2 linked regions of the Homo sapiens genome follow. The protein of the gene in region 2 purifies or fractionates together with the protein of the main gene of each other region. This does not show direct contact. Each region holds a gene or a part of one and is shown on either strand. Other genes may lie near its edges.

Region 1 (3,595 bases), about 110 Mb from region 2:
GTGAGCTGACCCTTTAAGGCAAAGGCCATGTGGCAAGGAACTGAAGGAGGTGTCTGGCCAACAGCCAGTAAGGCACTGAGGCCCTCAATCCACAGCCCACAAGATTCAACCCACTGAACCCTCCCAGAAACCACTTCGAGCGATCTTGAAAGGCCTGTCCCACCTTGAGATGACTACAAGTATCATAGCCTCATGAGACACTGAGCCAGAGAACCCAGGTAAGCCATGCCCAGATTCCTCGTTTCAAGCTATTAAGTTTTAAGGCAATTTTTTACATAAATAACTTAACACATTTGAGACAAATGAGGCATTACTATGCCACAGCCTGAAAACTGTCTAGCAGTTACCTTAGGCAAGTTAATCTATTTTCAAACAGGAAGAGCCTTCCCCACCTCATAGACTAACTGTAATGTCTGTGTGAAGGCATCTGCTCACATATAAAATAAGTAAGCTTCCTTTGAACTCAACACAGAAAATTTTAACGGACTCAAATTGGTTTACCAATATCTTTCAAGAGGAATTTCAATTGAATTGTTCATAATTTATACTTTTTTATATAGAAAACATTTTTAACTAGTGAAAACAAAGGACACATTCAAAATCAGGTAGAAATCATGTTTCCTTTTAATTGAATACTTAATTCACAACGTTTCCTCTCTTGCTGCTACTCTGGTAATAATTAGGTCCCCACCTCTCAAGAACATTGCACCTGACTAGACTGAGAGCCAGTGTGAACATGGGCCCCAAACCAGGGCTTTCGGAATAACAAGGAACAGCCAAGCCAGCCTCTCCCTTCACTTAGAAAGGGATTATGAATGGAAGGGTCCAAATCTTCATCATCCAAACACAGAAAACCAGGAGCTCAACACCTACATGGAAACCAAAATGTATCAGGAATAAAGTACAGTACCCCTTCACATACTCAAGGTCAAGATGGGTTTGCAGAAATCATATCTGACCATCTGGCCTCTGCTAGTAGATATGGCCCCATCCCAGCATTTTTAAGAGATGTTTTTGTTGTATTATTTCCCCAAGGGGTATAAAATCTACCAAAAGGAATATAATGAATCAGAATAAATCAGCTCACTCACAAGAAACGTTCTTGGGTAATGGTTTTTAGTTGCTGAGCTTATTCAGCACATTATTTAAAAGTGGCAAAATTCAGGGCAATCTGAGAATTCAAAAGTGGCGGCCACAGGTTTGGGTAGGACACACATACATACAACCCCCATTTTTTTCAGTGTATATGTCAAGATGTCAAGACCTCAAGACCTCTGATCATCAAAATAAGTTATTTTGTATATTATAATGCACAGGACAACAGAAGGAAACTTTCTTGGAAGGTGATGACAAGGCCTTTTGCAAAAGGTCCACTCCAAAAGGACTGGTGCCCAGTGCCTTGTGGCCTTCATTAACTTGATCCCTCCTCTTCTTTGGTTGCAGTGGCCTCAATGGGAGCTGTTTCTTCTGCTTGTTCTGCTGGCTTCTTCTCTCTTTCCTCTTCCTCATCCTCATCCTCTTGGGGATAGAGGTCTGGGTATTTCTGCATGCATTCCTGCATGGCCCGGAACTGGTCTACACAGTCTGACCCCTTGATCTCCTCCGTGCTATAGTGGAAGCAGGAAAAGGCTGACTTAAACTGTTCTCCACAGGGACCGCTGGCCATTCCCCCAAGGCATGGGCAGTTCCAGTTAATGTTTCCATTTGGCAGTATCAATCCTAGAACAGGAAGATAGAGAGATGTTCTCTAAAGTTTCAGAAAATACAAAACTAGTCCAGTCCTCACAGGCTACTGAGGGGGTGCAGAACAGGAACTATTGTTGCCTATGGACCCACACCTCGATTTGGATTAGGTTTAAAGCCTAGCACATATCCAGCATTCCTTGGCCCACCTGGGAGAGAAGCCACCAATGACATATTTCTCCACGTGTGACACTAATTTATTCTAAGCCACCTCTCAGTGCTCTGAGGCTGTGCTCCAAGAATTAAATACCGGGACCCATTTAGCCCAAAGAAGAGGAGATCACTTGGATGGTTAGTGAGGAGCTTTTTGAAAGCCCAAACACTTTAAGGAACTGAGGTATTGATCTCCTCTTTCCAATCCCCCTCCCCATATGGATGATCAGGACCACCCCACCCCCATGCTCCCTGCCCCCCTGAGCCCCTCTTGCCCTGCAGCTGCTCTCAGAAGCTCAGCATAGCCTGGGGACTGGTGAAAAGGAGGAGGTTGCTCCTTATGTACTGACGAAGAAAGATGTCCAAGACATGCTGCACAATGAGAAGCTGGTGGCATACCATTAGTGCGAGTGCATTCTTGTAAAAATCAACCAAACCTGTTAAACTGCACATATGTGTTGGGCAGGAAGCAAGGTTATAGATGGGTTTTCATTTTCACTATATTAATAGGCTTCTTACTTTTGACTTTTATACCTTTTCTTATCATTGAACTTTATTCACATCTAAATAGTATTTCTTGGTTTTCCAAAATGCTCTCAAAACGATGGCTTCATTTTCAGCTTTGTGAAGACATGATTCATACAGAAGTTTCTTACATGATTCTTATTAAGAGACTGAAAGTACTTTCTAAGAGAGCCTCTAAAAGGTCCTGTGAAATTACACATGATTCTTCACTCCAGGGCAGTACCCAAGCCTGGCACTCTGCACTAACGTCCAAAGTCCTAGGCGAAACCCCGCCTGCCTTCAATTCCAGCTTGGGAAGCTCCACTGATCAATGGATCTGCTGTAGCTATTCCTGTTCCTTACTTGTAAAATGGGGACAGCAAGGACGATGCCAACTAGTGCTGCCCCCTTAGCAGGCGCAGACCCCCAGGACCATCAGCAGTTGCAGATCAAGTTCTCCTGCATTAAGCTACGTTTGGTAACTCACATAAGCCTTCTGACAACCTTCTGCAGTGGGTGCTACTAACCCCAGTTTACTCATGCAGTCTCTGGGGTTCATGGTCCAAGTGAGGACTGCAGACTGGGCTGACAGGATTCCCAGAGTCCATGCCCCTTCCCCTACATCTCACCACTTCTTGAAATGGACCTCAGTGCTGGAGAAACATTTGCAAATGCTGCCCCCTGGAGCTTCAAATCTGCTCACAAACCTGCACAACCAGTTTCCAAAAGAGGTAATACTGACATTTAAAAATTACAACCCAGTACAAATTGACCAGGTGGTTGATTAAAAAAAATCATAACAAAAAATGTATAACCTAGGTCTCCAGGAGTCCTTGTTTCATTGTTTCTTAGGGGCAGGTAAGCTGGAATGAGATACCTCCTCACAAAGCACATGGTGCCAATTTGCATTTCAGGGACACAATATAAATCCACACAGAGGGTACCTTTGGCATGTTACATAAAGCTCAGATGCAGTGTGTTGTCAAACATGCAGTCTAAGGCCTGAAGTTCCAGTCTCTGGCTGAGTCAGTCTCCGCCCCCGCCCAGGCCCCCAGTTTTCTCATTGGATCAGATGATCTTTAAGGCCCTCTTGATGTTTTGATTCTAGGAAAATTAATTCTGCCACCTTTTTTCTTGGTACTCTTAGCTATTCCAAGCACCATCTCAGCTGCAGAGCTGGATGCTGGAAGGCAGG
Region 2 (7,256 bases):
GCAAAACTTTCTTTCAATAAGAAACATTCTTGTAAGGTCATTCCATTCCTTTGAACTAATAATCATTCTGTGGAAAGATACAATATCCTAAAAGTTATATCTATTTTATTCTTTCAGGAGAAAACAGGTGTGAAAACTCACCTTACATTTGCAGCATGTTCCAAGATATTTCCTAGCATCCTTCATCCAAAAAATATGTATTGCCTGTCTACTATGAACTGAACACCAATAAGTGGTAAGGACTGAGTAAAAACAAAACAGAGCCAGTGTTTACCCTTATGAAACCCAGCGTAGTGTGGGTAAATGGCCATTTAGTTCCTAATCATCTGTATCAGTGCTTTTTAACTTAAAGAGCATGAACTGCTCTGAGTAGCAGATATAAAATATGGACCCTCTCTCTCAAAAATGGTATACAATCATAAAAATTTGAGAAGTTCACAGGACCTCTCAAATGTGGAGGTGTCCAGTACCACAAGTTAACAACCCTGATCTGTATCTACAACTACATCTACAAAACAACAAATTCGAGCTCATAAAAGCCTACATTATGTTTGCTATATTGTTTGCTAAGGGAGTATACCAAAGATTTCCAACAGAAACAAAAGTAAAGGTCCATCATTTATAAGGTTAAGTTTTGATCATCTGAAATTTCACTTACCTAGAGAATCTTATTCCAAATATTCTGGATAAGTAAGGTATGCCTAGATTATGCTTCTTTTCTTTTTTTTTTTTTTTTTTAGACAGGGTCTCACTCTGTTGTCCAGATTGGAATGTGGTAGCATGATCGTATTATAGCTCAATGCAGCCTCAAACTTCTGGGCTCAAGTGATCCTCTTGCCTCAGCCTCCTGAGTAGCTGAGACTATGGGTTTGAGCCACCATGCCCAGCTAATTTTTAAAAGTTTTTTTTGTAGAGACAGGGTCTTGCTAAGTTAGCCAGGCTGGTCTCAAACTCCTGGTCTCAAGCAATCCTCCAGTATCAGCCTCCCAAAGTGCTGGGATAGCAGGTGTGAGCCACCACATTGAGCCTACATTTCTATTTGATCTTTCATTCCTTTGGCTAAGGCTGCTTATTAAAGCAGTCTTCTTTCTTGAAAAGCCATTTGCACATGAAGGTGTACTTTCATTTCAGAACTAAATCTGCATTTCATGACTCTTCCATTTCAGATTAATGAGATCCAATTAGTCATGACAAATTCACACACGCACAGCCCCTGAATGAACAGCTTGAACAACAGCAAAAAGCACAAAAATTCCAGAATTAAAGGGTACCCTCTCCTGGCTCTAACATTTTTTGGCAAAGAGATCCTGGACAAGTCATCTCTGACCTATGTTTCTTCATTTATAAAGTGTGGGAGGAATAAGACTTACCTGAGAGGGCTGCTATGAGAAATCCATCCAACAAAATAATGTATATGAAAGTATTTAGCTATGAAGTGGGTGAAAGGTAGTAGGTTGTTGCGGAGTTGCTCACAAAGCATCAGACATTCGTGGAAGATCATATGGAGAGAGCTGCTCATATAACATCCTTAGTGTGCTATTAAAAATTTTATATCTGAAGTAAAATAAATTGTTCTTAAATCACTCAAGGAATTCTGCTTTGGTTAAGTGGTCAATAGTGAAGTTTTTACACATCAGAAGTTTGCAGAGATGCAAAAATATATTTATGCAAGATGCATAAATATATTCTCAAAGCAAGAAGATGAACTACTTACAATATACTCAGTATTAGTTCAAAGATGTCAAAGTAGTTCCAAGATGTCAAAGTTCTTTTCATGCAGTCCATTTTAACTTTTTTACAGAGCAATGATCCTTTCACTTGCCTTGTTGAAAAGCTTCATAATGTTAATAGGATGTACAGAAGATATTTTAGGTGAATTAGTTCAACAAAACTGACAAAATCAATGAAATCATAGTATTGAGGATTTTAGTGGAAGAAGTGTTTGCTTTTAAAGGAAGTAAATATAATAATACTCTCTAGTTTGAGACATGTTTTCCAGTCCATTCTCTACCGGAACACTAGATAAGCTGTGTAAAGGATAATCTTGAGGTGGGGAAGGTTATGTATCAAACTTGTGAAACTATGCAACATTCACTCTTTTTTTTTGCATTACTTCATTTACATTACAATATATATTTATATTATTTGAATAGCCAAGTTTGGGGCTATTTTTCCTTTAAAAATTTAATTAACAACTTTTTAATAATGTAGTGTGTGCCATTGAACAAAAGATCTCTGGTACCCAGAAAAGAGTCAAAATGCAAGCCCTCTGATTTCTCAACCCCTACTATGCCAAGGCTCTGCTGGTTCTCCCAAAAAAAAAGAATTAAGCTTTCATTACCTAAGTCCAAAATAGTCATCACACAAATGTCTACCACCAAAACAAACTGCAGATCCTTCAATTACACACTTCCTCCAAGAAATTCGAATCAATTAATTGTATAAGTGTTTAAAAGTAATGTATCCTCCATTTTAAGAAAACAATTATTATTAATCTCTAAGACCTAAATCCTTGGCCTAATCAGACATTTAATGAGTGGGGAAACTTCAGACTGGAGGTTTTCTGGGATAAACTCCAGAGAGGAAGGAGCAGGGGGAAGAGGGAAGACTCAAGGAGAGCAATAGATAGGGGAGGTTAGGGTGGAAAGCTGAATGCATGGGTAAAGGGGAGGTCTAGGGATAGTAGGTGCTTTACAGACTGAGCTCAGGGGAGGCTGAGGACGGGGGTGGGGAGAAGGGTAGGCGCGTGGGCAGTTAAGTTGGTGGGAGCTGGGTGGATGGAGATGAGGGTAATTCACGGGCAGTCTCCAATGCCTATCAGCAGCTGCTCACCTAGTTCCCTCCCACATGGCTACTAAGTAGGTAGGATTCTGAGGAACCGAGAAAGTGCGTCATGGAATGGAGCCACTCCGGGGCCCAGGAAGGCTTCAGGATTCCCCCACCCGCAGCGGCCGGGCCAGCTCCCCTACCTCCCATATCCCGACCGGCGTCTCACCTGCTGCCAGGCGCAGACCGCTGAGGCTCCCCATGGCCACTTGCTACTCCGCCGACCAGCGCAGAACTTCGCCGGGGACGGTGGCGCTGGTGAGCTCAATGTCACCCAGCGTTGGAGTGGGAAGGACGCAGGCGGCGCCGGGGGGCGGGGCGTGCGCGACGCGGTGTACAGGCCTGCGCCAGTGCGGGGCGTGTAGGACGTGCGCCACGCGCTGGAGACCCGCGGCGCCAGCCTAGTGCCCCTGGCGCCGCATCCTGAGCCAGCCTCGGAGATGGTCCTGTGGAGTGTGGCGCCGTGGGCCCTTGCCCTAGCGGATATGTACCCATGGGAGTACCTGTGTGAAATAGAAAGGAAATGTGCAACTTTCGTGATCTGTAAACTCCCGAAATACACCAGATAAACCAGTATTCCAGTATGCCGCTCTTCCAGTGTTTTCAATGAACATATGCTTTTATCAGAAAACACATAATTGGACTCTGCTCAGTGGCCCTATCTCTTGTTGGAGCATCCCTCAGGCTAATCTGAGAAATTAACATGTATGTTTTCAATTTGTTTTCTATTTACCTATTTTCTAAAAACATTTGATCATCTCCATCCTAAACACTTTACTCATACCCACCCACACTGCCAGAAATGCCGTTTTTTCTTGACGTTTCTTAGTGGTCCCAAATTCTTAACAAAGACCCCCCTGCTCCAGGGTCCGGGGAGGAGGTTAGGCACTGGAGTGAGAGGTATTAGAAAGGCCTCACTTGCCTAGATTTCCTTCAACGACCTGGTAGGGGAACCACAAGGAAATTGTTTCCCTTTTGTGAAAAGATGGGATTGGAGTAAACAGTCCCTTCAAGGTCTGACAATCTTTGATCCATGTATCTGGCCCAGTTCCAGGAGGACATGTTAAAAGGGTTGGGACAGCAGGGTGACAGGTTCCGAGGTGGATGCGGACCACGTTGAACTCAAGCCTTGCACTCAGCTTTCCTAAGGATTCCCCTCGTACTATATTTTTTGTCAGGCGACTCCGCGGTCACCTTTGCTCCGCGGTGATTGGCCTGCAGCGGGGTCCTCGTGTTTGTCCAATATGGCGGCGCCCAGTGGCGGTGTGAACTGTGAGGAGTTCGCCGAGTTCCAGGTGATGGGGTTTTCCTCATGTGGCAGGCATGTGCCTCCTTTTGTCCCCAGACCCTATTCCCTGCTTTGCGAGGGAGTATGAACCAGCTTTGGAAAAAGCGGGCAATTCAAAGCTCTTTTCTCGAGCCATTGGAGGTCATGGGGGGCGCGGGTTTGGCCTTAGGGAGCGAGGCTGCTCTGTAGGAGGAGGGAGGAGGGGGGTCATAGTTCTCTCCGCGGCTCTCCGGCCTTGTCTGGGAAGCTCTGGGTAATCTGCTGTGGTAAAGCTCGGGATGCGTGGATAAGGATTGTAACAATCTTGTAGCAGTTCCCTGAACTCAGTTTCCAGCTTCTGCCATTCCTCTCCTACTTTTGTAAGTAGAGTTTTTGTGGGAGAGAAGAAGGTGCAGAAGAGCTATTTAGTTGATAAAACATACTTGGTGCAATTTACTATTTTTGTGGGACAGGACGTATGGAAGCTTGGAGGGAGGATTAATTATAGTACCTGCTCTAGTGTCATTGCCCATTAGAGAAGATGTAATATTTAGAGGTTTTGCCTTTTTATGTTCAAATATCAGAGACCTAGGGCTAATTATTAACACCTGAATGCAAGAATAGGGATCTGGTTTTGACCAAGTTGCCATTAAAGTTATCTGTTCCAATTCAGTCATAAATGTGCTTCTGTTTAGTTACAAAGTTGAATTCCAAAATCATGATCTTAAATATGTATTGCATTATTAACTAACCCAAGATACTGAAAAATTGACCTATCTGTAGTAAGCTTTGTACTTTGAACGGTTTGAAGGTAGTGGTATTCTTGAATACTGCCTCAGCCTCCCTGTAGCTAGGACTACAGGCACGTGTCACCACGCCCGGGTAATTTTTTAAAAGAAATTTTGTAGCGAGAGTGTCTCACCAAATAATCCTCTTGCCTCGTCCTCCCAAAGTGTTGGGATTACAGGCGTGAGTCACCACGCCCGGCCTAAAGTGTTTAAAATTTTTGCAACTCTTATTTTTTCATTATAAAAATTAGATTTAGTACTTCTGTAAAATATCCTATTTCCAAATTGAAATAAAATCCAGAAAAGAGTGTTTAAAATCGAGTGCCTAGAATCCCATTTTAGCATGCATTCAAGAATTTATTAGATACTGTATTAGTCCGCTAGGGCTGCCATAACAAAATACCACAGACTAGGTGGCTTAAACAATAGAGATTTATTTTTTCACAGTTCTGGAGACTAGAAGTCCAAGATTAAGCTGCCATCAGTTTCTAGGCTATACAGTTTGATTTAAGGGGGGAAAAAGAGTGCCATCAGAATTAGTTATAGTAAGGCTTCTCTTCCTGGCTTGTAAATGGCTGCTTTCTCACCATGTCTTCTCTATGTCACTATCTCTTCTCTGTGCCTGCACCTGGAAGGAGAAGGATCTCTGCTATCTCTTCCTCCTCTTCTTTTTTTTTTTTTTTTTATTTTTTTTTTGAGACAGAGTCTCGCTCTATCCCCCAGGCTGGAGTGCAGTGGCACAATCTTGGCTCACTCCAACCTCCACCTCCCGAGTTCAAGCGATTCTCCTCCTGAGTAGCTGGGATTATAGGCGCCTACCACCGTGCCCGGTTAATTTTTGTATTTTTAGTAGAGATGGGGTTTCACCATGTTGACCAGGCTGGTTCCAAACTCCAGACCTCAGGTGATCCGCACCCCTTTCAGCCTTCCGAAATGCTGGGATTACAGGCGTGAGCCATGGCGCCCAGCCTATCTCTTCCTCTTCTTATAGGGACATCAGTTCTATCGGATTAGGGCCCACCCTTATGACCTCTGTTTAACCTTTATTACATACCTCAAGGCCCTATCTCCAGATACAGTCATGTTGGGGATTAGGGATTCATGAATTTTGGGGACACACAATTCAACCCGTAACAGATACCTACTAGTCTCCTGGCACTTGCGAAACCCAGTGGATGGAGTATAAAACAAGGAACGTAATCTAAGTAGGGCTATAAAATGTAGAAAATATTGGGAAGAAAAAAGAATAAAATGCTGAAAGAATTTAGAGAGTTGGGCCTTAGGCAGGCAGGGACTAGGGGTATTCTAGGCAGAGGCAATAGGATAATAGACAAAAAAGTTTTATGTATTTAAAGGAAATAGAAAATCAGTATTGCTAGAACACATTATTCATACAGGGGCACATTGGGATTACACAAGATTGCAACCAGATTTGTGGAAAGCCTTGTGTGTCACGTGTGAGTTAGGGAGTCCTTTTTGGGCAGAGGGGTGAGATGATCGAAGAGGTGCTTTAGGAAGATTCATCACTACTGCCAGTGGCTTTGTTTAGGCCCGTATCATTTTTGAAACTAGCTTTGCAACAGGCCTTCCTATCTTCTGGCACTTTTTTTCTCTACTATATTCCCCCTTCAATCTAATCTCCATAATACTGTGGCATATGCTATTATATTCTGAATTTTATAATCTAAGCTATGCTTTTGAGTTTTGGGTTCATATGACTAGATATAAACTTCTTAACATGGCATATAAGACCTTTTAAAATCCAATCCCAAAGTGCCTCTTGTCATGTCTCTTATTATTGTCCTCATACGTGTCTCTTTCATCATACCCACCCCCCAGCACTTCAACATGCATGTTTAAATATTAGTATTTCTATTAGGAATATTCATTGACACATAAGTGATTTTTGAATCACATTGTAATTAGGTACTAAATAGGTTATTTTCTAGCATCAATGATGGTTTCTTTTATGCTTACAGGGCTGCTTTCTATTCCTGTCCTGGGGATGCTGGGTGTTAGAGGACTCTGGCAGTTGTAGACAAGTTTGTGTTTCTGGTTTGGGGGAAGCACCGTGGGAGCTTTGATGTAAAAATAGAGTTTGAGGAACCAGATCTGTCTGAAAAGAGCATCATGTAAAAGGGACTTTGATGTCAAGTACCAATGACATTACTTCTGGGTACCATCAGGCAAAGGGAGAGGAGAGGAAAGGTTAAGGGAGTTCCATATCATTCTTTGGAGTACAGTGTATTTTAGTTATATAATGGCCCCTTTCCTACTCCTCACCCCTATGTACCCTAAAAAATATGTAGAATTATAAAATAACTTTACCTGAGAATGAATCTTAGGAATAGACTATAGTATAATTGTAGGGGCAA

The links.
Region 1: the proteins of MIX23 (region 2) and CHCHD4 purify together in Homo sapiens (co-immunoprecipitation; 2 studies listed by IntAct). This does not show direct contact.

What each region holds. Positions count from the first base shown.
Region 1 is NC_000003.12:14,111,476-14,115,070, forward strand, and holds the end of CHCHD4 (mitochondrial intermembrane space import and assembly protein 40), read right to left. Parts: intron 1,720-3,595; coding exon 1,412-1,719; 3' UTR 602-1,411; downstream 1-601.
Region 2 is NC_000003.12:122,380,039-122,387,294, reverse strand, and holds the start of MIX23 (protein MIX23), read left to right. Parts: upstream 1-4,063; 5' UTR 4,064-4,070; coding exon 4,071-4,121; exon of another isoform or gene 4,122-4,138; coding exon of another isoform or gene 4,139-4,147; exon of another isoform or gene 4,148-4,473; intron 4,474-7,256. Other genes in the region: protein FAM162A, read right to left, coding at 2,996-3,029.